Regions from separate parts of the Homo sapiens genome. Here regions 1, 2, 3, 4, 5 and 6 are each linked to region 7. Evidence: fine-mapped QTL for protein levels in blood plasma. Region 7 holds a variant in brackets. A gene starts in each other region. All regions are shown on their reverse strands.

Region 1 (4,062 bases), not on the chromosome of region 7:
ACGCAGTACCCTCGGATGCACAGCTCCCCGGGCGTGTTCAGCTTTGCCAGCGTCCCTGCCTCCATGTTCATGATCCGGGCCTGGGACAGGATGGCCTCAGGTTGGGGCTTCCTATCCTCTTGCTTCAGGATAGGTGGTCCTTGGAAATGGAGAGAGCTTTGCCTGCCCCCAACCCCCCAACCCAACTGCCTGGAATGAGGCCCCCTGGCTCTGCTTATCCCCATCCAGAGAAGGGAGACAAAGGCTAGAGTCGACCCAAAGCCAGTGAGAGACCTGAGCTGGGCATGAAAGAAGAGCTGAGTCCCAGGCTGGGAGGGCTGAGGAAACAGAGTGGGCAGGCAGCTGCTGCAAAGAAAGAGGTTTGTGGACTGCAGAGCCAGCTGAAGAATTATAAACCGTGCAGAGGAGAAGGGAGTCTCCTCTTACTTCCCATTAAGCAGCAAATAAGCCAAACAGGGTGGCATGGCAACACCATGTGAACAGGAGAGACAGAGTCTGAAAGCCTGGTAGAGAAAAGAGCCACGGCCACCGTGCCAAGGAAAGCTGAGCCTCTGTGTGCCTCAGTGTCTGTGTCCGTGAAATGGGGTGAGTGATGCCTGCCCCTGTTTCCCTTCCAGGTGGGCATCTTAGTGACAGTGGCAGTGCAGCTGTAGCACACACGGGAGGAGGCTCACATCCCTACTCAATCCCTGGGTACATGGTTGCTCTGGCGGGAGGGCAGGGCAGATTCACGCCAGGACAGCGGTCAGCCCCAGGGGAAGCAGCTGCTTGTGCACGGGGGCAGCGATCCCCCAGGGGCGGGAGCAGAAGGGTGCAGGGGAAATCAGGAGCCAGCTGGCACAGCCCCAGTGTTGGAGCAGGAAAGGAGGCATGGCTGGGCATTTGAGATTCAGGTGCACTCTGGGGCAACCTTTGAGGGGCAAAGGGACCGCCCCAAAGGGATAGGCTGCTTGGGAAATGAAGTGTTTACGCCAAGCAAGAAGAAGAACTCTGCTAAAGCGAGAGGCGAGCACCACTGGAGGAAAAGAAGCTGTGTAGGAAAACTCTCTGTGCTCTGGCTCCTCTTTGAGGCTACCCTGGCTGCCCTGAAACAGACAGTGGGCTTGGCAAAAACACACCTCAGACAGGAAGGGAGGCCGCGGAGAAGTTCAGCTGGCAGCCGCTCACAGCCACTGTTCCAGCTCTTCCCCTTTCATGCTTAGCCCACAGAGAACACTCCGGGCCAGGCCTAGCACACCCCTGCTGCTGGGGGGCTCTAGGCATCCTGAGTGAGCCATTTGACTCTCTCACTGAAAGCAACCGATGTCCCAGCTGGGTGCACCCCAGCTGGGTGACGGGAGGTGGGACTTTGGAGTCTTGGTCAGGGGCTCACCTCCGTGTGAGGCATAATTCTGCCCACGCTTTCTGCCTTCTGCTCCACAGTGTCCTCAGGGAAGTGCGCGAATGTCACGGGACTGTTCTCTGTGGTTCCATAAGCAACCTAGAGGGTCCAGAAAGGGTGTTTGAAGAGGGCTCAGCACGTGCAGAGGGATCAGGTGAGCTATCTGAGGAAATGGGAAGGAATTCATAAAAGAAAAGGGAAAGTGGAGGGCAGCCGAATGGTGGAAACAGAGACATCATTGGTAGGGGCCTGGGGTCAGGAGGCAGAGGTGCTGGGAGTGAGCAGACTAGATCTCTGCAGGGCCCCAGATCTGAAAGAAAATTGAGAGCAGGGACACCATTCTCTTCCAGCTGGAGCTCTCTCAGTGCCCCGTTTCCCTGGAGCAGCCACCTGTCTGTGCCTGTGGCTCCGGTATTACCAACACCCCACACTTCTCCCCCCATCCCCTGGCTGCCTTAACCCCACCTTCCTGATTTCAGGCCACATCCCCGGCTCCTCCCTTCCAAGCTGAAGGCCCCATAAACTTGATGAGAAAGCCAGCCTGCCTTGGCCCAGCTAGGAGTGGCACAGACACAACCCCACCCCCGCATTCTGCAAACCCTGAACAAGTGCCTGGCCTTGGGGCAGGCGTCCCCCAAGCTCTGGAGAGTTTCCCGTGAATTTATTTCCATCAAAATAAAAAAACAACCTAAGCAGTGATTTTAAAAACCAGTGGTACCCCCACCCCACCTCCCCCATTTCCAGTGGTTGGAAAGCCTGAGCAACAGAAAAACCAGAAGCCAGCCTTGGAGAAGCCTAAATACCATCAAGGAATGGTCTAGGCCAAGTATGACCCTCCTATCCTAGAGGCAAGGGGCAGAGAGGTTTGGGAAAAGGGCAGGCCCTGGAAACCAGGCCCCAACACGAGGGTACTGGGTAAGGGAAGAGAGGCTAGTTACCCCGTATCCTAGGTCCCCTTTAATCAACGGATACCAGATCTCATCCATCCTCCTCCCTGCACCAAGCTTCCCCCATATCAGCTGCTCTGGCTCTGGCACGGCTGGGGTTTGGTTCAATGTGGGTTCTGGTTTCTCCTTCCACCCCTCATCACAGACAATATCCTGTGCCAGGCAGCTTGGAGCTCACCCTGAGGCCAGAGCTGTGACCCTGCCTGCTCACCCTCCCCTTTCCACAGGAATCCGGACATCGTGGCTGGCAAGTGGGCACACAGAAATCTGGCGGGCTGGGGCGGGACTGCCCACAGAACTTAGGGTCTGGCAGCCAGAGCCGTCCAGGGCTGGTCCCTCGACCTGCCCCACCCCCTCCCGCACCCCTCCTCACAGTCCTGGGGCCACCGCCCGAATGTGGCATCTGCCAAGTACACCTCGGCGCCACTCAGCCGCCACCCTGAGACCCCTCAGGGGCGGGTCCTGACCACTAGGGTTGGGGATGAGGGATGGAGATATTTCGGGGCGATGAAGGAGGGGGGATGGTGCGACTGTGCTTGTGGCCTGTGGTTTCCAGGTGTGTTTGCCATTCCTGTGGGCCACTCTCCCCCACTTCCCACTTCTCTGCTTAGCCTTCAGCGGTGGAAAAAGGGGATGAGGGCGCCGGCGACAGAAACGCAAGCGGGGTTGGAAGAGAGGGGTGGGGGCGCGCCCGAGGGTGGGGAAGGAGCTCGGGTCTACCCAGGGCCAGCTTCGGCGCGTCGAGTCTGAAGTGGGAGACCGACGCCGGGGCGGCTCTCACGCTCGGCAGGCGCCGCACAAGCGCCCCTTTAAAGCGCAGGCAGCTGGCCCACCGCAGGGAGACGCATCCAGCTGTCCGGCCCCGCTTCCTCCCGCCTCGCATCCAGGGCACCCGGCCGAGCGTGTGTGGATGGCGCGGCGTGGAGGCTCAAACCTGAGCAAACAAATAAGTTGAGGGAACGCCTCCCTCTCTCCGATGTAAACTCGGGGCTCCAGACATAACTATTCCCCCTTCCCAGAAAAGCCCCGGGAAAGGCGGTAGGCAGAGGAGCACCATAGGAGAGCGGGGGGCTACAGCCGGGGCTCAGGGCTCGGGGCTCGGGGGCCACGGTCCCACCCCCTCATGCACGGTAGCCGGCTGGGGGAACGGCCCCGCCCCCTTCCCCGTGGAGGGCGGGGGCGCATCTCTGGGCGCGAGCGAGTTAAGCCCAGTGGCCTCGATGCTCCACGTAGGAGCTGGCTCGGCTGCCGGCTGCGGTCAGGGCCACCGTATAAAGAGGGCGGCAGACCCGAGCGCCTAGGACTCGCCGCTGCCCGCGCCCCGCCGCCGCTGCTGCCCCCAGCCCCGGCCCCAGGCGTCCCAGCCATGGTCCGCCCAATGCTCTTGCTCAGCCTCGGCCTCCTGGCTGGTCTGCTGCCGGCGCTGGCCGCCTGCCCCCAGAACTGCCACTGCCACAGCGACCTGCAGCACGTCATCTGCGACAAGGTGGGGCTGCAGAAGATCCCCAAGGTGTCAGAGAAGACCAAGCTGCTCAACCTACAGCGCAACAACTTCCCGGTGCTGGCTGCCAATTCGTTCCGGGCCATGCCGAACCTCGTGTCATTGCACCTGCAGCACTGCCAGATCCGCGAGGTGGCCGCCGGTGCCTTCCGCGGCCTCAAGCAACTTATCTACTTGTACCTGTCCCATAACGACATCCGCGTGCTGCGCGCAGGTGCCTTCGACGACCTGAC
Region 2 (4,057 bases), not on the chromosome of region 7:
CTGCAAAGCATTTCTCTTTCTACTTTCTAGCTGCTTAGTAGGTTTCCAATGTCCAACCCTACAAATAAAAGTTTCCACATTCTGCTTTTTCTCTTTCTTCTCCCAGGGGCCCGGTGGAGAGGCTGCAAGGTGCCCCTCGACCCTCTAAGACAGCTCAGCCAGTCCCTGCTGCAAAGGGCACACGCTGGCTCCTCTCTGTGCAGAGGACACCTTCACCCCTCACTCCGCCGCTTTGAGGATGGAGCACCTAACTTGGGAGAGGAGGTTTCAGCCTGCGTGGACCCCAAGAACCATCCGAGGGGTGGTTGGGCTGAGAACTGGCAGAGGGGGTCTTCCGGTGATGGGGTCTGGGGTTGCAAAGAAGGTGCCTCCAGGATCGGATCCCTGTGCCCAGCCGCTTGAAGCGCCTTTAGCTTCTTATCAAATATTAACATGCCTTTCCTGCCACCTCCCACCTAGAGGAATAATTAAGAGCTCGGCTTCACCATTAATCTTTAAACGAAAATCACCCTGTCCGGAAAGACCGGCTCCGCAGAGGCCTTGGGGCTCCGGGTCCCCCACCCCCCGCCCCCGCCAGGCTCCCAATTCAGCGCTGGAGGTTAGGGAGGCCAGGGGAGCTTGCGACCCTCAGGGGCAAGGAACCCGTGTGGGAAGCGCGGCTTCCAGGACCCTGCCAGACCGCCCTTGCTCTGGCCGCGGGGCAGTCACCCAGCGCTGAGTCCCAGCGGGACGGACGGAAACCCACGGGCAGACGGAGGAGGCTGGGTGAGAAAAGAAGGCGTGCGTTGAGGCGGGTCCGAGAAGCATCCTTTTTTTTTTTTTTTTTTTTTTTTTTTTTTTTTTTTAAACGGAGCACCAGGCTGGAGTGCAGTGGCGTGATCTCACTGCAACCTCCACCTCCTGGGTTCAAGCGATTCTCGGGCCTCAGCCTCCCGAGTAGCTGGGATTACAGGCGTGTGCCACCACGTCCGGCTAATGTTTGTATTTTTGGTAGAGATGGGATTTCACCATGTTGGCCATGCTGGTCTCGAACTCCTGGGCTCAGGTGATCCACCCGCCTCTGCCTCCCAACGTGCTGGCATTTCAGGCTGGAGCACCCGCGCCCGGCCTGAGACGCATCCTTATCAGGGACTCCCAACTCGTCTCGCCGGGCCACGCGCACACACCCTCACCGCGCACACCCGTGCACACGCTCCCCCAGCCGGTGCTGACACGCGTGTGCACACACAAGCTCGCGCGCTGCCCAGTCCTCCCGCACCCTCGCGGCCCCCGGCGCACACGCAACCCGGGACCCCAGCGCCACCGACGCTCACCGGTCGCCCGCGGGGGGATCCTCTGCAGGGGCGGGAGCTGGGGGCACGGAGGGGACCGCCGAGGGGCACCTGGGGCCGGAGCCCGGGAGCTCACCTGCACTGGCCGATGGCCGCGCCGCGGAGAGGGCCAGGAGCGCCAGCAGCATCCGCATCTTGCGGGACAGCAAAGAGTCCTCTGAGCCGGGGGTCGCGCACCGAGGAGGCCGCCGCGGGTGCAGCGATCCTGCCGGCCTGGGTTTTATAGCGGAGCCGCGACGGGAGGGAGCCCCGACAGCTGGACGCGGGAGGCGGCTCCTCCCCCTGGCGGGGCCTGCCCTCCCCTCTCCACCTTCCCCTGTCCCTCATCTGAAATCCTCCGCTCTCCCCGGTCCCCCGCCCTGCCTGGCCACCTCTTGCCCTGTGCGCAAGGCCCCCTCACCCACTCCGCGTCCTCTCCACTCAGCAGCGGCGCCCTGCCCCTCCCCCATCCTACTCCTGGTCCCTGGTTTGGGAACAGGGACACGACACCACAAAGTGCTTGACCCACACAAAGATGAGTGCCCCATGATGACTTTGATCATTCTGGCGCCACCCCTGCGCAGTGGTCTTGAATGGGACCTTGGAATGGCCTTGGGGTGGGGGTGGGGGTGGGGGTGGAGATGGCCTCGAAGAGATGAGAGGCTGAGGGGCGTGTGATGCCGTTTGTTGAATCAGTGGCCGCAGAAAGGCTCTCCTATCTCTCTTTGGCAGTGGCCATTGATTCTCTGGGTCTCATCTCTTCTATTTCCTCCCAGGCTGCTCCAAACTTAATTTCTAAGCAGACCAAAGACCTTTCTTCGAATACAGAGCAAAGCTGTCCCTAAACTACTGCCCTTGCTGGTGTTTATGTGATGACCAGGGAGGGTTGATGGGGCAGAATTAAGAAATGGATTGTAAGAGGATTCGGTGAGGGAGAAGCTGATGGGGTCAAAGGGGAGGAGCTAGGTTCTTTGAGCCCCCCAGGTGGAGAGATGAGATGGGAAGAGAAGAGACTGGGGTCTGAATGGACCCCTGGTTCTCCCATCTGGCAAGACCTCCAGAGGAGTCCAGGGGAAGTTCCCTTAAGGGCGGCTCCAACATTTGGGGAAATGGGGTCCCCCCCATGCCCCCAAGCTGCCTCTTGTCTCCTCTCTTAGCTGTGCCCTCCTGCTACTGCAGGTCCTCTGTGTCCCACATGGGGTGGGGGCTTCTGTGGGAGTTTGGGAAGCTCAGGCTGGGGTGCGGGAGAGGGACGGGGAACCAGGCAGTGGACCTGGACCTCCTCCATCAATCCATCAACAGGAAGCCCCCTTTTTCTGGTTTAGCCACTCCCCATCCGCTGCCAACCTCTCAGTCCCTACCGACCTTCGAACCTGGGCTAGGGACTTCTGAAGGGGGATTGCCTCCCCCAGAAGGATTCAGGCAAAGATGCTTCCTCCTTGCTTAGGGTTGAGGCTGACTCCCCGCTCCTGGCCCAGGATCACACAGCCTCACAGAGCAGCTTTGATCCTACAGAGAGGCAGGAGGGAGGTGAGGGGGTGTCCATGCCAGGCTTAGGGCTCTATTGTCAACACCACTGTATAATGTAATCACCAGCCTGCGACCATGACAGCCACAGGAGGGATTCCACACCCAGAGCCTATTCTGGGGAGTGCATTTGTGTTCACAGGGCTATAAAAATGTCCCTTTCAGGACTGAGGAAGCCTGTTCCTGGGAATAAAAACCACCCCCAGGGAGTCCCTGTGACCTCTGGCCAGCCCCCTGATGAGCAGGGGAGAGGCTTGGGAAACTTTGGTGGGGTTAAGGGACTGTTGATCAATGATCCACTTTAAAGTTCATTGCATTCAGGCCCCCCAGGAGAGAGGGGGGCCCTGGGTGCATTTTGGGACCATAAAGATGGGTGAGGAGAACGAGTCCCTGGTAGGGCATCCCCTCTGAGGAATGCGGGAGGGGTAAAGCTATACACTCTCTTATGGGTGCATCTTAATTATGGGCACCACAGAGCCTGCACATTGGCGATGGGGTGGTGGACTGGTTCCTGCTCCATCTGCCATCTCTAACTTCAAGGTTACACAGGGTGAGTGGCCCTCTCTTCCTGTTCCTGGTCTTAACATTCTCAGCCTTATCTCCAGCCCTGACCCCAGTCCTGGCCTGCCATAAACCAGTCACCTGTCACTATTTAGACTACCTGGGGCCCTGCTTACCTGTAGGGGACAAGGCCTGATTTAGGGTCGTTAGAGCTGGAATGAGTGCTGACATGTCCCAGCGACTTACAGGGCCCATAAAGCTGCCAGCCCAGGCCACCTGAGTGGGAGAGCCCAGCCCAGCAGCCCCAGCCTCCTTCCTCTTACTCTGCAGAGGCCCCCAGTGTTCTGAGTTCAAGTCTTTGCTCTTCTTCTGACTCACGGATGACCTTGGGCAACTTTCCTGCACCCGGCTGATTGCAACTTCCTCATCTATAAACTGGAGATGGTAATCCCTGCCCGGCTGACCTCCACCAATAAACAGTTATTTGGAGTCTGCTGTGAACCAGGGCCTGCCCAGCCCAGACTCTCACAACCGGCCTCTCAGTGCCTGGGTGTAGCCACTGGCCCATGGCGGATGCAAAGATTAATCACACTCTTGTCCTCTGGGGATGTTTGCACGCATGGCCCTGTCAGGAACAGAAGGGAGGCCATGGGAAAGCTAAGGGGCTTTGAGACACATAACCCTGGAGTCACTTCTGGCTCCATCCACTTGCTCTGTGA
Region 3 (4,057 bases), not on the chromosome of region 7:
GCTTAGCAGCCACCACAAAGAATATTAAGAGATGGTTTCATAGAACTCTTAGATGCCTGCCAGCTACTGTTGATGCTGTAACCAGCTCTGCAACTGGTTCCTGTTCTCTGCCTGCCTGGTGCCTCTAGGCATCCTGGCCATTGTCCCATCCTGAAGATCTCTGAAGACCAGGGCAGAAGACTCCAGTAGAGCAAGAGAGACTGGGGAGATAGGTGAGGCAGATGGAAGGGAGGGGAATGGGTGGTGGGTGGTGGGGAGAAACCATCATCCTCATCTTCAGCAGCCAATCCAGAGCCTGGCTTCCCAACCACTTGAATGCTCAGAGGCCAGCTTCCCCTTGCTCTAAATGTTCCCCTTGCTCTAAAAGCTGGGTGTCTGGGACACCTCTAGAGAGCCCAGGAAGAATTCCACTACCTTTGCTAGGTTTCCTACTATGGCGTGAGAATGGATTTGGGGATGAGAATGACACTATCAGTTCAAACCATCTGCAGTCAGCTCAGGCACACAGCTTTTTCTGTGCAAAATTCCTGCAGAGAGCATTCTAGGGCCTGGCCCAGCTGTCGCAGCCCAGGTGCCCACCACATTGCAAGAGAGGTCTGTATCTTGCGAAATAGAGATTTTTCAGCCACATGAATAGCTGCAGTGGGAGCCTGACAGTTCCATGCGTCAGCCCACACGGCAGCAAGTCTAGTCACTACACACCTACTGCTGAGCCGCCTGTGGGAAAATCTTCCCTGGCCACCTGCCACTCCTAACCCCTCTGAGCTATTTGGCAACAGAGACACAGGTGTGAACAGAAGTCATCATCATAAAACTTAGTCAATCTCATATAAGTAATTACCTCAAAAAACAACCCCAAAGTCTCATTAGCCAGATAGTAAAATAGAAAGAAAACTAAGAGACAGATCCAAGAGATATAGGATTTTATTTGGAGATGAACTTGTGTTATAGCAAAAGGGTACGAGTTTTACGTTCAGAGTTCCAGCTCCCCTGCTTCCCAGCTAAGTGGCCTTGAGCGCGTTCCTTAACATTCTAAGGCTGATTTTTTTCATGTTTAAGTGGAAGAAAATAACACCCCTGCCTGGCAAAGTTGTTGTGTGATCAAAAAGATAATGTACATGAAAGCTCTTTGCAAATGGTAAAGTATTATGCAGTAATGAGTTATTATAATTCAGTCTTCTAACAGGGCACCATGGTATCCCTTTTATCTCTCCTACCACCCAAATGTCCTCTCCCCTGCAAACCTCAAAGTATTCTGCATGGAGCGTGTTGAGCACGTGTGTGTGTGCACACACACACGCGCACACACACACGGTGTTCAGGCATGTGTCTCTGCATGTCATTTTCATAGCTGTGTCTAGGCAAGACCTGTGAAATCTCCACGTCCCAGAAGCCAGTAAGAAAGCACCAGCTCAGAAGAGGGTGTAGCTCAGGGGTAGAGCATTAAACTGCAGATCAAGAGAAGGCACCAGCTCTGCAAAGCCTTCGCCATTAACAAAGAAGTGAAACCAACAAGCTTGAGACCCAGGGTTTCCCTTTATGCATGGCGGAAATTGGAAACAAACCATTTCTGGTAACCAGTAACTCTTAGTAATTAATAACGTAGCTCTTAGTAACCAGTAACTCTTAGTAATTAATAAGGTAGGAGTAAGAAAGTAGATGCCTGGAACTGACCTTATAAGTAAGAACTAGGCAGAAAAAGAACTGGCAGGAGATGAGGGAGCTGGGGAGAGACTGCAATGATCATCTAGTCCTGATTTCACAGATGAAATGGGGTCTCAGAGAAGAGAGTGGACTTGTCCAGGATGACACAGGGGCAAAGCTGGAACAAGAGCCCAGGTCTTCTTCCTCCATGTGAGCTATTATCAGCCATTCATTTTCAGTTCCATTTGGCTCCCATATTTCTGAAATAACCAAATAATAAGTCCAAAAGGAACTTACCCAAAAAATTTTTCTTGGCCACAGATGCTGGACCCAATAAGGGCCCCAATGAACAGTATCCACCTCATGTCCCCGGGGAGTCAGTCATACAGTGGCTGAGTCAAGCTGTATTTATAAAGAGTCTGAGAGTGACTCAAGTCCTCAAAAATGCTAATGTGATTCCCAAGCACCCTTGCAACTCTGACTGTGACAGGCAGGCCCTACCAATGCCTCTCCCATTCCTTTCAAGTGATAAAGGTTGAGCATCTCAATTTACAAGGTCAGGAACTTGCTCCAGGAGCTGAAAAAGTCTGTGCCAAGGGTACCATATTGCTCATCACTTGGCATTTAAATAGTGTTTTTTCAGTGAATAAGCTAATTCCACAGTGTTGGATGGAATTTATCCTGATAGGAGAGGTCAGATTATAAACCTGGCATAGAATTACCTCTAGAATAATAATAAAAAAGTTAAGACTATCAAAGCAAGACTGAGCTGGCTCCAAGACCACATGCTTGACAAGCCCTGCCAGAGAATTTCACCAGGGCAGGTCAGGATGAGGAAAGAGGTTTGGGGCCTCTTTTATGTATCTGAAGCCTAATTCTTCTGACTCCACTAAGGAAATAGAAATGTATCAGGCAAATGATATAGAAAGGATGTTTTAGTCTGAATAAATTATCAGTGTTCCTTGGGGTCTGATCTATGGGGAAGGCTTAATGGTTTTATCAATAATAAGATTTTCAGCCGGGCGAGGTGGCTCATGCCTGTAATCCTAGCACTTTGGGAGGCCGAGGTGGGCGGATCACGAGGTCAGGAGATTGAGACCATCCTGGCTATCACAGTGAAACCTCGTCTCTACTAAAAATACAAAAAATTAGCCGGGCGTGGTGGCGGACGCCTGTAGTCCCAGCTACTCAGGAGAATGGCGTGAACCTGGGAGGCGGAGCTTGCAGTGAGCCGAGATCGCACCACTGCACTCCAGCCTGGGCGACAGAGTGAGACTCCATCTCAAATAAATAAATAAATAAATAATAAGATTTTCTTATACTTCCTAGACTGTGGGTCTGGTGTCCTTTCCGCCAAGTCACAGCTGAATAAATGGAAGACACTCATATCTCCATAACGCCTTCAGGGGCTCTGGGACCTTTGAGTCTGTCCTGGGAGCCCCAGTTCCCACAGCCTTTCCCATCCCACCCTCCCTACGGTCTACATGCTTTCCACACCCACTCAAAGGGAGTGGACACAACCAAGGGTCATAGTTGAGAGAGTTAAAGAAAAACTATCCTGACCTGTGTTAAAATGTAAGACCTAATTCAAGATTATTATGATTAGGACCATGGCTATTTCAGTAGGAAAGACTTACTGTGCTTAACACTGAATACGGCAAAGAAAACAGAGAGGATCAGTGGGATTACTAAGAGAAGACATCAAGGTAGGGGGATTCTTGCTAAAAGCAGGCCAAGGACTTATACATCAAAGTCCCCATCAAAGGTGGGGATGAGGAACTTGATCAGATATCAAGGTGGGAGGGATGACTTCGCAGGATCTTTGCTCAGGCTGGCTTAGCCAGGGCTCAAGAACCAGCCTAATCAAAAGGAGGGTGCAGAATCTCAAGTGTGGTCCCAGAGAGAGCCTTTGTTAGGAGCTGTGGAGCTAGGGGCCATCATCTCCTCTTGCTCCCTCAGGGTCCTTTTGTCCTCTCAACACTTCAACTGAATTCCTACACCCACCCTGTCCACCACAAAGCGTGGGCTCAGCGTCACTGAGATCGATGTCAGCTTTGAAGTCAGCAACAAGAACAACTGAGACCCAAATCTGTAAGAGATGTGAAGTGGGAGAATCAAGGACCAAGCATTCTAGGCAAGCTGAAATTTAGTTCCTACCTTTTCTCCCAGGGAAAATCATCCACATGAAGAAAACCTAAATCCCTAATGGGAGTCAATATCTAAAGAGAAACTGTGTGCAACCTGAGACCGAGGCTTGATAGGGCAACCAGGAAAAAGGAATGTCATTGGCTTGGGTCCCCACCATTTGTGTGTTTGTTTTTTTTGAGACAGAGTTTCACTCTGTCGACCAGGCTGGAGTACAGTGGTGCGACCATAGCTCACTGAAGTCTCAAACTCTTGGGCTCGAGTGATC
Region 4 (4,053 bases), not on the chromosome of region 7:
TTCTGTCAAGACTAAGTAGGACCATGTAGGGTCTTGAATGAGGAGTTACTTCATTTCCTCCAATAATTTTTTCACAGACATCTGTTCAATGGAAAAAGACAAATCAGATTGGTGCTCACCCCCAAAGAGCTCTACACAAAGTCATGTTTCTAAGACCAGCCATGCTTTTTGCACTCAGAGAGGAAGTCTGGATGAGAGCATTTCCCCTGCTTTTACTCTATGTAGACCCGCAGACATCTGATGCAAATCCTATTCCTGTTGGACTCTAGGGTCCTGTTTTTCCACCCACAGAAGCGAGGCCATTGACTGTTCCAGGATCATTAGGCTGGATGTCACAAACCAGCAACCTCAGGCCCCAGGGCAGAAAGCTCTGCCTTGGTCTTTACCATCAACAGTTGCTGCAGGAAATGCCAGTGGTAGTGACAACCTCAAGTGCTCCCACCCTTTTTGGCTAACTATTAATTTGGGGGAAATAGATAAGACTTTTAGAAGCCTCATAACTTCCCTTTTAACCCCAAGCCATTGCAAAAATATAGCTTATGAACCGATATTAGCATCGTTTAGCTGTGACCCTACCCCTCAGTCCTTTGGTCATTATGAGACTTTTGGTTATTAAACTGCACTGTTCTCACTCATAAGTTAAGAAAATAACATCGATTGCACCTCCCCTTCAATCTCTAGACCAAACCATGGGGTTTAATCTAAGGTCTTTTCCAATGAGATAGGGAAGAGAAGAGAGAAGATACCATATGCCAAGAATTCTGCCTAAGTGACATTTCCTTGATGATAGTCTTGAAGTAGAGACCCATTGTTAAGGAACAGTGAGAACTAAACACAAGGCAAACCATACATGCAGATAGAGAGAACCTTATGTCTTAGTGATACACTCCGAGTGCTCCACCTCCTGCACCAGATGTTCTTGGATTCTCCCAAAATAGTTTTGCTGAGACTCATGGTTTCTTGAATAGGGCACAGTGCCTCTTGTTCCATAATTAGGACTAAGTCATTGCCAAATTCACAGGCAAGTATTAATGACAGCTATAGAAGCCTTTCGTAAGATTTGATGAGGGTAAGAGCAAGGAGGAGAGTGACCACATGAAATGTGGCTAGTGTGATTTGAAAAAGCAGAGGTCTCTGCTTTTAAAAAGGAAACTGGGAGGAAGAAATTCTAGGCTCTAGAAACAAAAGGGTAAAGAGCTTATAGAAACAAAAGACCTTCACCCAATCCCAATTTTCCTAGGGTGATTCATGTACAGATAGATTTCAACTGTGCCTTGCTTTGCTGTCTGTTCCTTATATGGGCCCACACTGCCCTCTCTGAACACAGGAAACAAAGAGGAGCACAGCAGGTTGCTTTTGTTGTTTTCCTTTGAAGAAAAGATATGGCTGGATTTATCTGCCCTGTGTTTTTCTGTTATGGAGGATTTAACATGCCTGAATATAGTCATACTATGCCCTGCTTATAACATAGCCAACCTTTGTCCCAAATGTCCTGCAGCCTTGTTATTTTTATATTTCTTCTCTCTCTCTCTCTTTTTTGTTTTTTTTTTGAGACAGAGTCTCGCTCTGTCACCAGGCTGGAGTGCAGTGGCACGATCTTAGCTCACTGCAGCCTCCAACTCTCTGGTTCAAGCGATTCTCCTGCCTCAGCCTCCTGCGTAGCTGGGATTACAGGCACGTGCCACCATACCCAGCTAATTTTTGTTTTTTTAGTGGAGACAAGGTTTCACCATGTTGGCCAAGATGGTCTCCATCTCTTGACCTTGTGAAACACCCACCTCAGCCTCCCAAAGTCTTCTCATATTTAGGTGCATAAACCAGATATGCACCTAAATATGATAAACCAGAGTTCTTTGGGAATTCCTGGCAAGGCAGGTTATTACATAAGTCCCTGCCTCCAAAAGCTGATGAATCCTGGGAAAAACCGTGGCTGGCTCCATATTGCCACAGCTTGAGAGTAGTCCTCACTTCCTAGCAGGTTCTTCAAGGGAAATCTAGAGCTCCCCAAGAGCTGTCACCCTTTCAGTGGTAATACCATGAATTATACAGCATTTTAACCCATGCATGCTCAACTCACACAAAAGCAGAAATATTGGTTACCATTTGGTAGACAAAAAATTAGCTTAATAAAAAATACTATAGCACACCCAAAGGGTTAATGAGGGAACTGGCCTCACGCCTTAATTTATTGCCAAAGAGTCTCTAGACCAGAGAAATAAGTATAAAAATTCTAATAATTCCTGATTCACTTTTGGTGTCTAGGTCAGATTTGTCTTAATTGTCTTTATCTATGCATTTTCTGCAGCAGGAAAGGCTGAGCTGACTAAGTTGCCACTATTCCTTTCCTGGAAGGTACTATTTGTTTTACGAACAAGAGAGTTTTGTTAACTCATTTTTACATTGTCCTTTTTGGCAATTTTCAAGTTACAAATTGGCAGCAATAAGCATTGGTGGTTCTGCTATCTTTTGCAAAATAATTATGAGAAGAAAAGATTTTTTTTTCTAAAATACAGACATATTTAAAATCCAAGAAAGAATGCTATTTAAAAAAAAAAAATAGAGACAGGGTCTCACTATGTCGCCCAGCCTGGACTCAAACTCCTGCGCTCAAGTGATCCTTCCACCTCAGCGTTCCTAGTAGCTGGGACTACAGGCATGTGCCATTGTGCCTGGCTAAACATTATAAGGCTTGGGGGAAAACATCTTCTTTCAGTATAGGAAGGTAATATTGCCAAAAGTTCATTGAAAGTCTGCTCCATTTTGCTTCATGGTCATAATGGAAATGAGAAGAATCAGTCTTACCTTCAGGAATTAGCAGGAGAGAAACGACAACTGAGAGAGAGGATGCCAGAAATCTATAGGAGTTCCTCATTGTGGCTGCTGTCCCACATCAATCAACCTGAAAATCTGTTTTCAGTTCTTAACTGCCTCTATCTATATACTGAGAGTAAAAAGGATGTGGTTTCCTTTCATTTTTTTTTTCAAGTTTCAAAGTTTAGCATTAGGAAACCAAATCCAAATAAGTGAGAATGGTGGATGATGGCTCACTGCCAGCAGGCAGGCTTTCCTTTGCTAGGACTGCTGAGGGGGGCGCTGGAATTCTACAGGGTAGGAGAGGGGCAAGGGACCTTGTTGCCATCAGAGTACACCAGGGAAGACTGTAAAGTGTCTCAGCTATGATTTTGAAGACGCTTTCATCATCTGCAATATTATCTGTAGTATCCATGACTGGAAACTCTCGAAGACTTAAATTAGAATTTTAATAAAAGTCCTCAAAATTGGTCACCAATCAAAATTCTTTCTAGCTGTCTCCTTGGGTTATATAAGAATTAGCAGGCCAAGTGCAAGCTGAGGACAGGAGGGAGATTTATTTACATAGAGGCTCCTGCCTGGATTTTCCTTCCCCACTTTGTGGTGAGTGTTTATTGTGCTCCTGCCTGGTCTGTGGCAGGTGTGGGAACATGGGCTGGAGGAGGGTAGGGGCTCTTGGCCCTTTTCAGCCCTCTGATTGTGCGTTCCTGATTGTCTAGTTTCACAACTTTAGATACTGAAAGTATCTCCGAGTTTCCCTCCCTCCCCGCCCCCCCCCGACCCCTGCTTCCTGCCTTTCTTCCTTACTTTCTTCTGAACAGGTTTAGGTGAGAAAAGAAGTGGGAGTCATTTTTGTTCCAATGTTGGGGAATGTCTCACTCTAAGAAGAGTCAACCTCAGTCCCTGGAGGAACAGTATGCAGTGTGCTTTCTATTTGAAATGAGTTCAGCTCTTTTTCTGAGCTGAGGATGTGGTCTCCGATACAATATACATGGTCAGATGTGCTGTCAGGATGTTGGGTACTGAACCAACCATCCCCATAGTTAACATCCTGATGACTTCAAACCTAGTGGTTACTTCTTTAGAAATCAAGTGACCTTAGAAGGGAGCCCTGCTGAGACCCCTGCATTTCTTTTTCTCAGATATTACAAGTGTATCAAAGGTTAATCATTTTCAGTAACAGCAGTGAGGACCCTGCTATTGGTTTTGGTGAGTAATTTTAGTGCAGACTTAAAAAAGTCA
Region 5 (4,064 bases), not on the chromosome of region 7:
ATGCCCAGCTAATTTTTGTACTTTTAGTAGAGACGGGGTTTCTCCATGTTGGTCAGGCTGGTCTCGAGCTCCCAACCTCAGGTGATCTGCCCGCCTCGGCCTCCCAAAGTGAAGTGCTGGGATTACAGGTGTGAGCCAGTGAGCCGGGCCTATTTGAGTTTTTATGTTTAAGGATGTATTTCTCTTACTATTTTTTTTAACACAGGGTTTTTCCTGAAAAGTTGCCTGAGGAACAAAGAGTTAAATAAGACCCTTAAAGGATCAACTCTCTTTGCCAGGCATCTAAGTCCCCTCTGGGGCTTTGAGGAGACAGTCGCTGTCTTTCCTGGTGGTACCACCACCTTCCTTCATTCAACGCCGCCGCATCTGACAACCCTGGGCACAGGAATCTGCACCCCAGGTCTCCACGGTGAATCCAGCAGTCAATTTTCAGAGCTTGTCCTGCCTGCCCCATCCACACCGCTTGGCACATGGGTCAGCCCGCCTTTACTTACCTTCTTCATCTGGCTTCCCGGATGTCACATCTCTTGGTTTTTGGTTGGTTTTTCCAGTTGGCTTTTCCAATTTATACCTGCAGCATGGATCTCTCCTCTGAACTCCAGATACATAAATCTGTCTATTTGACATTGCCTTGGATGTCTAGAAGGCATTTCAAACTTAGCAGGTCCCACACTTAGCTCCTAATTGTCAGTCCTGCCTCCAGCACACGCCCCTCTCGGTGTTCCCCATCGCAGTCGAGGACAACTGCATTCTTCTAGTTTCTCAGGCCTCAAACCTTAGAATCATCCGAGACTCCTGTCTCTCACATATCTCATCTGTCAACGAATCCCATCAGCTCTACCTTCAAAATATGTCCAGAATCCACCACCTCCACTGCTAACACCTGGCTCACTATCTCCTAGTAACCTGGAGGGCACTGTCTTCAGTCTGATCTTCACACAGTAGCCGCAGTATGAAGACACAGGGTAGACCATGCCTCTCTTCTTCTCCAAACTCTCCAGTGGGTTCCTCCTAGTCAAAGTCAAACCTCACTTGGCCCTCTAGACCTCACCTCTGCATCCTCCCGCTGGCCTTATCTCCTCCACCTCTGACCCTTGCTAGCTCTATTTCAGCTCCACCGGTCTCCTGGCCATTCCCTGAACCTGAAACATGGTCTCCTACCCCAGGGCCTGTGCACTGGCTCTCCCGGTGAGGAAACCGCTCTCCTTCCCATCTCCACCGGCGCGTTGCATCCTTCACCTCTTTGCTCACATATCCCTTTCTCAGAGAAGCTTTTACTGAGGCCTCTGCTCACCCTCTTCTCCCCTCCACATTCCGTGTCTTCCTTTTCTATTTCGTTTCTCTCTATGGTACTTATGGCTTATGTAACAAACTAATCTATTGTTTATATATTTATTTTTACTGTTTCTCTGTGAAAACGTACACTCGAAAAGGGCAGGAGTTTTGTCTGTTTGGATCAGGCTCCACCCCTGGAAGGTAGGACAGTGTTCAGCACAGCAGGTGCTCAATAGGTGTTGTTTCGTGAATCAGCACATCAATTGCAGCATTGTGGCTACCAGGGGGTCAGGATGCGGGCGGTGGAGCCCTCTGGCCTTTGTGTGGTAGCCGAGGACTCTGTGTCAGCGACCGTTTTCCGGGAAACTTCCGGGCGAGACTCACATCTTGGAAATTCAAATACTCAATAGCTCTCGAATTCTAGGAATCTTGAGAAGAGGCCTGGATTAAGGATTCAGACGTGGGCCCTCAGATGGGTGAGAAACGGGGACTCTGTGTCTCCTAGCGGGGACAGAAGGGCCAGGTGACAGGCCAGGCAGAGTGGACGGGGCTTGGGCAGGGGGCGGGGGCAGGCAGCCACACGGGGCAGGAGCTGCAGAGCTAAAGCCAGGCCATGTGGACTGGCTGCGGGTTTCGCTGCCTAGCTGGTGGCATTGAGCAAGTTACTTAACCTTTCTGAACTTCCGTTTTATGATTTTGGAGGAAACAGTCATAGCTTTCTCTCTGGCAGAGTCCGATGGCCCGAGTCCCGCTCCACAGTGCGGGTGGAGGGCACGGAGGGGTGTGTGTGGGGGGCGACAGCCCAGGAAGACTAGGGGGCGGCAGGGCGCGTGGGGGCGGGGGTTGGGAGACCGCAGGGAGGATCCCCGACCTTGTCTGAAGATCCAAGCAGGCGGAGCCGCGGTCTGGTCCGCGGGGTAGGCGGGGCGCAAGAGTGTTCCCGGGGGCGGGGGGCCGACCCGCGTCTAAAGGTTTCCGCGATTCACCCGCCGGCGCCTGGCCTGGCCCAGTTGCACCACGAGCGCTGCGGACACTCGGGGCGGCAGTCGGTCTGTCAGTCCTCCCGCCAGGTCCCGCGGCCCGCACCTGCCGCCCGCACCTGCAGCTCCGCACCTGCGGCCAGTGCCTACTGCCCTCTCTTGCCGCCCGCACCTGCAGCCCCGCACCTGCCGCTTGCACCTGCAGCCCCGCGCTCTACCCGGTTCAAGCATGGCTGACCAGGCGCCCTTCGACACGGACGTCAACACCCTGACCCGCTTCGTCATGGAGGAGGGCAGGAAGGCCCGCGGCACGGGCGAGTTGACCCAGCTGCTCAACTCGCTCTGCACAGCAGTCAAAGCCATCTCTTCGGCGGTGCGCAAGGCGGGCATCGCGCACCTGTGAGTCGGGCCTTGGGCGGTGGGCCCCGTCCTGTCTGTCTGCCTGGGGAGCCTGCCCGGCGGGCTGACGTTGGGCCCTCTGAGCCTCCTGCCGTCAGCCTCTGTCTGTCCGTCTGATGTCTGAGCGCCTCTCTCGCTCTCTGTCTGGTAGCCCCTCTCTCCAGAAGCTGGCTCAGCCTCACTCAAGTCCTCATCTCCTCCCTTGACCTTGGAGGGGCCCACCTGGGGGTCCGTCTCACAGGTGTACACCTGATTCCATCTTGCATTCCTCTTCTCTGCCCTGAGCAGCCTGCCTCGTACCCCTCTCAGCCGGCCAAGTGTGGGCACCTGGCCTGCCCGTCATACCCGCCCTAGCCTCAGACAGGAAAGTGCTAGCTCAGGTGCCTTCCTTCCCCATTTCTTCTTTGTCCTCCTTCACTCTTTCTGCAATTAGGGACCCAAGTCAGGTTTCTAATCCAGTTATCTCTGACCTGAAACAAGACCTGTTAGGAGCGAGTGTCCCCCCCGCCCCCCCCGCAAGCAGGCTGGGAGGTCTCCTGTGTGTCCAGAGCCTTTAGGAGCAGCAGGGCTTGTGTGCAAAGGAGCTCCCGTGGGCTGCCCCTTGCTGGGACAGTTGCCATGCTGTGCCAGAAACAGGAAACACCCAGGGCTTCAAAACCCCTATCGATTTGCAATGATGGTGTGTGCAGCCTCTGCCCAATTAGTGGAAAGCTCAAAAGTGGTTTGTAGAATGGTTCTGAATGCGCTATGGAGTGCATCTCGAACGTCACTGGGCACAGGAATCATTTGGGGATCTTGGTAAGATGTGTGCCCTCCTTCCATAGCTCTGGGACAGGTCCTGAGATTCTGCATTTCTAAGAAGTTCTCCTGTGGTGGGTGCTGCCCATCAGATACTGTTTGTCTACTCATCACATTGTGAGTAGCAAGGGGTCAAGTGGAGTGGAGACTCAAAGGACCCCTTCTTGTGAGGTTTTTTGTAAGTCACACAACATCCTTTCGTTTGTGTTGGTGTGCACAGGTATTTTCTTTTTCTTTTCTTTTTTTTTTTTTTTTTGAGATGGAATTTTGCTCTTGTTGCCCAGGCTGGAGTGCAATGGTGCGATCTTGGCTCACCGCAACCTCTGCCTCCCAGGTTCAAGCGATTCTCCTGCCTCAGTCTCCCGAGTAGCTGGGATTACAGGCATGTGCCACCATGCCCAGCTAATTTTGTAATTTTTTTTAGTAGAAACGGGGTTTCTCCATGTTGGTCAGGCTGGTCTCGAACTCCCGACCTCCGGTGATGCCTTGGCCTCCCAAAGTGCTGGGATTACAGGCATGAGCCGCCGTGCGCAGGTATTTTCTAGCTAACTGATCCACACTTTTAACTGAAGTGTAACTGGGTTTTCAGATTGTCCATACACTTTACTAACA
Region 6 (4,064 bases), not on the chromosome of region 7:
GTGTCTGGATAAAATTATAAAGTAATAAAAATAAAACTCTTCTAGGTTGAACCTAGTCTAAACACTTCTATCTCAAATTTGATGTAATTAATATGCCAAAGTATTTAAGAGGTGGTGTTTCCACTATCAAAACCCTATCTATGCTTCAAATAAAACCAAAGAGGCCAGCATGGCATATTCCTGGCATGAATATCAGAATGAGACCCTGAATGAACCAGGTAGAAAATCTTTTTAGGAGAAGAACTCCAAAAAATAAGAAGGAAAATATGATGACCCACATGAGCAGTTTTATACAACAGGTTTTTATAAAATGCTTTTTAAAAATTCCCCTTAAATGGATTAAAATATATCCTTTAAAAAGCATTGCATACACTGTTCATGCTTTAAAACTATAGATATAACTATGCTTTGTTTAAAAATTGTGACAATTAATAGATGATTTCATGTGAATAAATCTGCAAAATGCAATTGATCGTGATGTGGTTATCTTAAGGAGGAAAGTTAGAAAGAAGCCCTTCACTGAAATCCTTGAAGGTATATGTATGTGTGCGTGCAGGAAGAGAAACAATTTAATGTGATATTACCTTGGACTGAAGCTATTATCTCCAAAATGAATTGAAGAGCTCATAAATGGAGTGGCTCATAATTTAAATATGGTGTAGATTATGATAATGACCTTAGATTTCAAGGCAGGTAACAAGTGCTGGTAATAAGAGACACAGTGCAAAGACTGAGGACGCTTCCAGAGCCGAAATGCAACAAGTCATATTTCCAGATAGAGAGTTTCAATGCGAAAATATTTAAGCATTCACATGGGATCCCGCTAAGACGATTTTCTCTGCCCTCTGATAAATTTTCCTAGCTTTGCCTCTTTCTTACAGAAACGTTTGTGAAGACAAACTGCACTTTCTGTGAGGTTTTGCAGACTGCATTCAAATAAAAGTAATATTGTTTTCCATTGTTCATAAGATATAATTAATCCCATAAGACAACCTCCCTTACAAAGTAAGTTAAGACAAAACAGATTTTTCAGAATTCTAAATATGGTCCCAGCAAAAAGTAATAAAAATCGTTATTTGGGAAACAATGTTTAGAACTTCATTGTTCAGAATGTTCTACTTTGAATAATCTCACAGCATAGGCCAAATCAAAGTAGACCAAAATAAACGAAGACTTTTTACCTATATGCAGCTAGAGGAAACACACGTTATTATGGTTTCAAGTTCTCCCCCAATTCCCAGTCCCTTATAACAGGTTACAACGTACATTTCTTTGTTTAAATGCCAAAGCAAAGACAGGAGTTCAAAACACGGTAAAATTAACCCACTGGGTGCTTCCTTCTGAACAAATGGCCCCAGAGTGGAAGAGGATGCTAAGAGCAGAGTCCACATCCCTGCACAACGCGTGGGCAGGACCCGAGATGGGCAGAGGGGGCTCCAGGCAACCCTTCAGACACTTAACAGGAAATGGCTGGGCTCTGGACAATATGAATTGAGTAAAATGTTTGGAGACGCAGGAGGGGCTGGTTTGACTCCTCTGCATGGTTGCCATCCTCTGTAATTGAGACAGCACGATCGCTGTCCCAACTGTCAGCTCTCTGCGGTCAAACACGGGGACCACCACCTCTATCTACTATGTCTGGAAAATTGATCATTCTTTTAATAAATAAATATCCCTAGCGCCGCCCGGGCTCGGGGGAGGGCGAGGTTTGCGTCTTTTCTCAGCTCCTGGCAGAGCTGAAGCGAGTTAAGCAGACGTTGGTCGGGGAGAGGGAGGCGGTGCGCTGCCCGCTCTGTGTCCTCGCCCCGGAGCCCAGCAGGGGCGCTCGGGGCGTGGTGGCTCTGGGCGGAGGAGCGCATTACCTGGTTTTCGGATGGCCGCTCGGAGCGACACCGCGCCGGGTCCGAGGCTGGAAGCCAGGAGCAGGAGCCGGAGCAAGACGCCTCGGATTAAATCCATTTCGCAGCCGGCGCCTGCAAAGTTTCACCAAGTCCCGGGCGCACACGGAAAGGGCGTCTCCGGGGGCGCGTGGGGGACGCGGCCCCAACGGATCCCCGGGCCGGGGCGAGGAGGTGGGGGGCTGCGAGGGCTGGGCCCGGAAACACGGGTAGTTCCAAGAGGTAGGACTGCAGCCGGGAGGTCGGCGTGCGCGAGTGAAGCCGGCTGCAAGCTGCAGGGCTTTTCGCGGGGGCGGGGGCGACGAAGGAGGCCGACTGGGAGGGAAGGGCTGGCCGCGGGAGGGAGGGAGGCTCGACCGGCCCGGGGATGAAATTACAATCGAGTGGAAGTGAGAGGGACAGGCCCTGAAACCTTCACTCCTCGCCCACCTCGGAAGCAGACAGCCCGCCCCTCACCCTCTCTAGCGACCCCCAGCGCAGCCCTTCCCCGCTGGTGACCTAGATTGGGGACCTGGGAGGGACCGACTTCAAGCACTGGAGACGCAGGGCAGGAGTTAGGCGACTGCGGGTCCAGGACCCTCCGCGGTCCTCACCCTGAAATCTTGGGGCGCCCCCCCTCCACCCCACCTGGGCCCTCCTCCTGCCGCGCCCCTCTAGGCGACTTTTTCTAACACCTCAAAGGTTGCTGTAGTTGGTCCAGCGCACTTGGGGGATGCGAGGGGTAGACGGGGGTCTGTGATTTGCAAGTGGGGTGGGGGTGAGAGGAAGAGAGGCGGGACCGTCCGGGTCTGAGGCGCTAAGAAGATAAATGGGATTTAAGGCTCGCAGATGGAGAGCTGAGGCCAGGCCGCTCAGACTGGGACGCCGGGTGGAGATTAGGGCCTGGAGCGGGGGAGTGGGGGCCCTTCCCGGCAGAGGAAGGCAACTTGAGACCCTCCTGGGGAGGAGATGAAACTCCAAGTTAAGCCTGGCGTCTTAGGGAGGGACGCGAGCTCGAGCCCCCAGGCGGACCGAGAAAAGCCCCTGGGCGGCGCCCAGCTGGGCCTGGGGCAGGGGGCCGGGGCGGGGTCCTGGCCTCTGATCCCGGGATCGGGCTTCCTGGGTTGTCTCCTGAATGGAGAAAGACTCTTTCTCCGCCGCTGAATTTGCTGCCCTAGGACTCAGTAAAATGTACCTTTTGCCAGATTTCGCGGTAGTGCCTGGAGAGGGGAGACCCTGCCTGGGACACAAGTCCCGTTGCATACTGGCGTTCTGACCTCCAAACCAGCGAGAAGAGAAAGCAGATACAATAAATAAACCAAGAGGGAATAAACTTAGAGGCAAACGCGGCCCTCGGCAGTTCCTGGGGAAAGATCAAAGGCCGTAGGAAGTGCCCCGCAGAGGAAATCTGCAGTCACTAGCGACAGGACCGCGCCCGCCCCCTCCCCACCTTGCAACGCTGCCAGGACTCGGTGGGCGTCCTGGCTCTTCACAGTTAGCCTATGTTTGGGAGCGCGGGAGGAAACAATGTTGACTGATATATTCTTCTCCCCTCCCCAGCCCCCCAAACACACACACACAGGATTTCTACTCCTCTTTTAAGAATGAAATATCCCCTGGCTGGAGAGTTTGTAATGAGCTCAATCTTGTTAGTTAGCAAAGCTGAGTGTGTTCCCTTATGTGTTGGCATTTTCAAGTGTGCAATTGTCTGTTCACAAATAAATTCAAAGTCCCCTCCAACTTGAGTATTTGGAAGTTTTAGCTGTGACACCAGAGCTTGTCCTCTTACATAGAACTGGAGCAAAGTTCAGACAGAACTATGCTCTTCACGTCCAAGGTGACCATAAAGCCGGCCACTAAGCTAAGCAAAGTGACTGCCCCCAAGGCTGCTAGTCTCAAAGGTCTCAAAATCATAGACTTTTTAGCATTTTAAAGGTCATCTAGGCCATGCCTCCACTCCACGCAGGAGTCTGCTTTCAGCATTGGTGTCGGGTCGTGCCACCTCCCTTTGAACTCCACCTGTGTGAGAGAGCTCCTCCAGCGCCAGCTGAGAAGTTGTTAGAGGCCTTTCTTTATGCGAAAGTGATTTCTTATCTCGGACTTAATGTGGCACCCAGAACCAAGCGAGTGTTGCAATGCAGATGCCTCCCATGCAGGCTTTCCTACTTAAAAATGATTCTCTGTGAT
Region 7 (4,064 bases):
AAGCCGCCCCCGCCTCCTGAGCTCACCTCATGGTGGGAGACAAAATGCAAATAAATGCATCGTGTCCAGGAGTGCAACGTGCTGTAAGGAACATAAACCAGGGAAAGGGCAGAGAGTGTGGGGCAGTGGGGCCAGTCTGAATGGAAGGGGAGGGCTGTCTGCTCAGCTGTCATCTGAGAAGCCTGGACAGAGTGGGGCACACGATCCTCTGATGGACGAGCCCCTGCAGGCAGAGGAAACAGCCGTGCAAAGGCCCCGAGGCAGCAGCGAGCTCTTGCGGGAAGGCCCGTGAGGCTGCAGCCAAATGGGCAAGGTCAGAGTGAGGAGCAGAGGCCAGAACCACAGGGAGGGAGCGGCCAGACCCTCCACGGCCTTAGGGCGTCCCTGAGATTCCATCAGGAAAGGGATGTAATCGGATCACCCCGGGAACAGTGAGGAAAATTGACTCCAGGAGGTCAGGGGGACTCAAGGACACCCCCCACCACTGTCTCTCTCCAGCAGAGCCCACACGATGAAGACCCCCAGGCAGTGACGTATGCCCCGGTGAAACACTCCAGACCTAGGAGAGAAATGGCCTCTCCTCCTTCCCCACTGTCTGGGGAATTCCTGGACACAAAGGACAGACAGGCAGAAGAGGACAGACAGATGGACACTGAGAGAGTCCTTTCCTCTCCAGGCCCCCAGGCCTCCCCCACCCCCACCACGTTCCTTCCCTCTCACTCTCCCCCGCTGCAGGCTGCTGCATCTGAAGCCCCCCAGGATGTGACCTACGCCCAGCTGCACAGCTTGACCCTCAGACGGGAGGCAACTGAGCCTCCTCCATCCCAGGAAAGGGAACCTCCAGCTGAACCCAGCATCTACGCCCCCCTGGCCATCCACTAGCCCACGGGGGACCCAGATCTCATACTCAACAGAAGGAGACTCAGAGACTCCAGAAGGCACAGGAGCTGCCCCCAGTGGACACCAATGAACCCCAGCCAGCCTGGACCCCTAACAAAGACCACCAGGACATCCTGGGAACTCTGGGACTCACTAGATTCTGCAGTCAAAGATGACTAATATCCTTGCATTTTTGAAATGAAGCCACAGACTTCTCAATAAATCAATGAGCTGAGAAAACTGAAACAGAAATTAGAGCATGGTATAAATTTGGAATGATAATGTAAATATTACACATTAAATGATGAAATCGGAAAACTACAAATGAGCGAATGAATTAGAAAAGAATAAAACCTACGTAATTAATGACCTTGGCAATGACAGAAAGAATTTAGAAAAAGAACAACAAATTATTCCAAATGAAGGTGTGAGGAAGGGGACAAAAATAACAAGAGGAGTTACTAATGAGGGCTACGTGAAAACTCGATGAAGCCAAAAAAGCTCATTCTTGAGAATGTGAATTACATTCACAAATCCTAGCCACAATAAGCAAGGAAAAAAGCGGGGTTCAGGCACACATTTCCATATGGGGGTGAAACAGCAGACACCACCACAAATCTGACACATATTGCCTTTATTTTTTTCACTTTTAAGTTCAGGGATACATGTGCAGGTTTGTTAGACAGATAAACTTGTGTCAAGGGGATTTGTCTTGGTTTTTGTGTGAGGGTTTTTGTTTTGTTTTGTTTTGTTTTTTGAGACGGAGTCTCGCTCTATCACCAGGCTGGAGTACAGTGGAGTGATCTCGGCTCACTGCAACCTCTGCCTCCCGGGTTCAAGCGATTCTCCTGCCTCAGTCTCCCGAGTAACTGGGACTACAGGCACCTGCCACCACGCCCGGCTAATTTTTGTATTTTTAGTAGAGACAGGGTTTCTCCATGTTGGTCAGGCTGGTCTCAAACTCCCGACCTCAGGTGATCCGCCCGCCTCAGCCTCCCAAAGTGCTGGGCTTACAGGCGTGAGCCACCACGTCCAGCCCATACATTTCAATTTTAAAGGGATGCGCCCTAGTCCTTAGTTAGTCTCTCCTCATCTCTATAAAA[T/C]GTTCAGCTACTCACCTCTTGGGCTATTGCTAGACATCGTTTTCTCTTCCTTCTTTCTGACGCCTACAATAGATAGGACATTCCCCCTCCTCATTCTATTCTCCCAAGTACTTTAAATTGCAATTTATAAAGTTTCTATGCTACACTCTAAAAAAAATTCTGTTTTGTTTTCTAATTTCATAATTGGTGCTTCACTGTGTCTTGTCCTCGAAGGAATGAGTATTTTGATTGTGTTCATTAAATCTGATTTTTCTATGTCTTCTAATTATTTTATATAATATTCATTCTGCTGTAGAAAAAAAAATCATATAATCCTGCCTCAGAAATTCAATGTCCTCTGTATTTCTCAAATATTTAAACATGTTTAACCTAAGATGGGTCTCACACATTCCTAGTACTCCTTTTGACCATGATAATCCTCATTAGTGAGTGTGGATTGTCAACCATAGCACTTTGTGTTTGATTTTTTGGTTTGTTTTTTGTTTTTATTTATTTATTTATTTATTTTTTGAGACGGAGTCTCACTCTGTCACCCAGGCTAGAGTGCAGTGGCGTGATCTCAGCTCACTGCAACCTCTGTCTCCTGAGTTCAAGCAACTCTCCTACCTTAGCCTCCCGAGTAGCTGGGACTACAGGTGCCCGCCACCACAACCAGCTAATCTTTTTTTTTTTTTTTTTTTGTATTTTTAGTAGAGATGGGGTTTCACCGTGTGGCCAGGATGGTCTCGATCTCTTGACCTCATGATCTGCCTGCCTCGGCCTCCCAAAGTGCTGGGATTACAGGCGTGAGCCACCACGCCCAGCCTGTGTTTGTTTTTGAGACAGGTTCTTGCTCTGTCACCCAGGCTAAAGTGCAGTGGCGCACCACCCCAGTTCACTGCAACCTCCGCCTGCCAGACTCAAGCGATCTTCGACCTCAGGCTCCTAAGTAGCTGGAACTACAGGTGTGCACCACCACACCCAGTTCATTTTTGTCTTTTTAGTAGAGATGGGGTTTCACCATGTTGCCCAGGCTGGTCTCGAACTCCTGGGCTCCAGCGATCTGCCCACCTCGGCCTCCCAGAGCGCTGGGAAAATAGGCGTGAGCCATCGCAGGCAGCCAGTCATAGCACTTTTTATCATTAGGATGATTCCTCTTTCTTCTCATTCTTGGACACTCATCTCCCAGTGCCTCATCTGCCAGAGAGGGTTTCTACCAGGGCTGCACTGGGCGTTAGGCTTGAAAAGAGGAGGACGGCACCACCTGCCCGGGTCTTGTGAGTCTGCTCAGGCCTGTAACCAGCAGGGGAGGGTCCAGTGTGAACCTCATGTCTGACAACTCTACAATGAATCTATTTCACACACACAGAGGGGGAGGCTCAGGGCTGACCATAAACCTGAGTCAATGAGCAGAGATACCCCAGTGCCATCCACAAACACAGGGGACGAGGAGCCACAACTTCCCACTTTCACCCAAAACCCCAACCCCTCCCTGACTGTGAGGGCCCTGGGGTTCTCCTCTGTCTCATATAGAGGCGGAAACCTCCCTTTTAGTGATTCCCTGACATTGCAAGTCACCAGAAGCCAACTCAGCTCTGACCTCGCTGCTTCCTGAGGTTTCCTGCCTGTGTCAGGAAGTTTCATTTCTCATTTCCTTCTATGGCTGCGTATTTCAGAAACATGTATTAGTCAGGGTTCTCTAGAGGGGCAGAACTAACAGGATAGATGTATATATAAAGGGGAGTTTATTAAGGAGTATTGATCCACACGATCACAAGGTGAGGTCCCACAATAGACTGTCTGTAAGCTGAGGAGCAAGGAAGCTAGTCCGAGTACCAAAACCTCAGAAGCCGAGAAGCCGACAGTGCAGCCCTTCAGTCTGTGGTCAAAGGCTCTGCATGGGAAGGTCAGGGATTGGCAGAGTAGGAGATGGACCTGGCTGGGCTGGGGGTGAGAGCAATGCAGGGTCCGTCCTGTACAGCCCACTCCCTCCCCCAGGCCCTGCTGTGCTGGGGAAGGGAGGGTTGTAAGGAGGACACAGCCCCAGATGGAGACACTAAGACAGGCCCCTGCTGTCAGATGAGAAGACCCAGAGCAGGAAGC

Which allele goes with the higher level. Positions count from the first base shown, and alleles are read on the strand shown. Strength reflects both the effect of a copy and how common the allele is.
As copies of T replace C in region 7, the plasma level of the protein whose gene starts at base 3,628 in region 1 goes up (strong association).
For the plasma level of the protein whose gene starts at base 1,527 in region 2, allele C in region 7 goes with a lower level than allele T (strong association).
As copies of C replace T in region 7, the plasma level of the protein whose gene starts at base 2,029 in region 3 goes down (strong association).
For the plasma level of the protein whose gene starts at base 2,909 in region 4, allele C in region 7 goes with a lower level than allele T (strong association).
For the plasma level of the protein whose gene starts at base 2,277 in region 5, T is the high allele of the variant in region 7 and C is the other (strong association).
With allele T in place of C in region 7, the plasma level of the protein whose gene starts at base 2,155 in region 6 is lower (strong association).

What was found. PIP is the chance, under the fine-mapping model, that this variant and not a neighbour inherited with it causes the effect. The UK Biobank Pharma Proteomics Project read protein levels with antibody pairs (Olink). The fine-mapping took linkage between variants from a reference panel, not from the people measured, so its PIPs are less certain.
Region 1: CHAD starts here. The variant in region 7 is fine-mapped to the plasma level of the CHAD protein (UK Biobank, PIP above 0.99).
Region 2: CA4 starts here. The variant in region 7 is fine-mapped to the plasma level of the CA4 protein (UK Biobank, PIP above 0.99).
Region 3: it holds the start of CPA4, and the variant in region 7 is fine-mapped to the plasma level of the CPA4 protein (UK Biobank, PIP above 0.99).
Region 4: GZMA starts here. The variant in region 7 is fine-mapped to the plasma level of the GZMA protein (UK Biobank, PIP above 0.99).
Region 5: FBP1 starts here. The variant in region 7 is fine-mapped to the plasma level of the FBP1 protein (UK Biobank, PIP above 0.99).
Region 6: EGFLAM starts here. The variant in region 7 is fine-mapped to the plasma level of the EGFLAM protein (UK Biobank, PIP above 0.99).

The regions. Positions count from the first base shown.
Region 1 is chr17:50,468,446-50,472,507 of GRCh38, reverse strand. It overlaps CHAD (chondroadherin), which reads left to right and starts at 3,628. Exons shown (of 4, transcript NM_001267.3): 1 at 3,628-4,062. The coding sequence starts at 3,695. It overlaps ACSF2 (acyl-CoA synthetase family member 2), which reads right to left. Exons shown (of 16, transcript NM_025149.6): 11 at 1,373-1,480; 12 at 1-80. RefSeq lists enhancers at 2,755-3,712, 3,713-4,062.
Region 2 is chr17:60,147,443-60,151,499 of GRCh38, reverse strand. It overlaps CA4 (carbonic anhydrase 4), which reads right to left and starts at 1,527. Exons shown (of 8, transcript NM_000717.5): 1 at 1,408-1,527. The coding sequence starts at 1,465.
Region 3 is chr7:130,291,133-130,295,189 of GRCh38, reverse strand. It overlaps CPA4 (carboxypeptidase A4), which reads right to left and starts at 2,029. Exons shown (of 11, transcript NM_016352.4): 1 at 1,942-2,029. The coding sequence starts at 2,009. RefSeq lists an enhancer at 1,535-1,624.
Region 4 is chr5:55,101,502-55,105,554 of GRCh38, reverse strand. GZMA (granzyme A) reads right to left here and starts at 2,909. Exons shown (of 5, transcript NM_006144.4): 1 at 2,803-2,909; 2 at 1-81. The coding sequence starts at 2,872.
Region 5 is chr9:94,637,731-94,641,794 of GRCh38, reverse strand. FBP1 (fructose-bisphosphatase 1) reads left to right here and starts at 2,277. Exons shown (of 7, transcript NM_000507.4): 1 at 2,277-2,654. The coding sequence starts at 2,485. RefSeq lists a silencer at 2,144-2,203.
Region 6 is chr5:38,256,650-38,260,713 of GRCh38, reverse strand. It overlaps EGFLAM (EGF like, fibronectin type III and laminin G domains), which reads right to left and starts at 2,155. Exons shown (of 22, transcript NM_152403.4): 1 at 1,863-2,155. The coding sequence starts at 1,959. It overlaps LOC124900966 (a long non-coding RNA gene), which reads left to right and starts at 2,048. Exons shown (of 2, transcript XR_007058739.1): 1 at 2,048-2,120; 2 at 3,083-3,617. RefSeq lists an enhancer at 3,024-3,525.
Region 7 is chr19:54,247,604-54,251,667 of GRCh38, reverse strand. LILRB5 (leukocyte immunoglobulin like receptor B5) reads left to right here. Exons shown (of 13, transcript NM_001081442.3): 13 at 736-2,247. The coding sequence ends at 882. LOC107987463 (a long non-coding RNA gene) reads left to right here and starts at 3,722. Exons shown (of 3, transcript XR_007067341.1): 1 at 3,722-4,064. RefSeq lists an enhancer at 1-174. The variant T/C (reference allele first, on the strand shown) is at 1,983.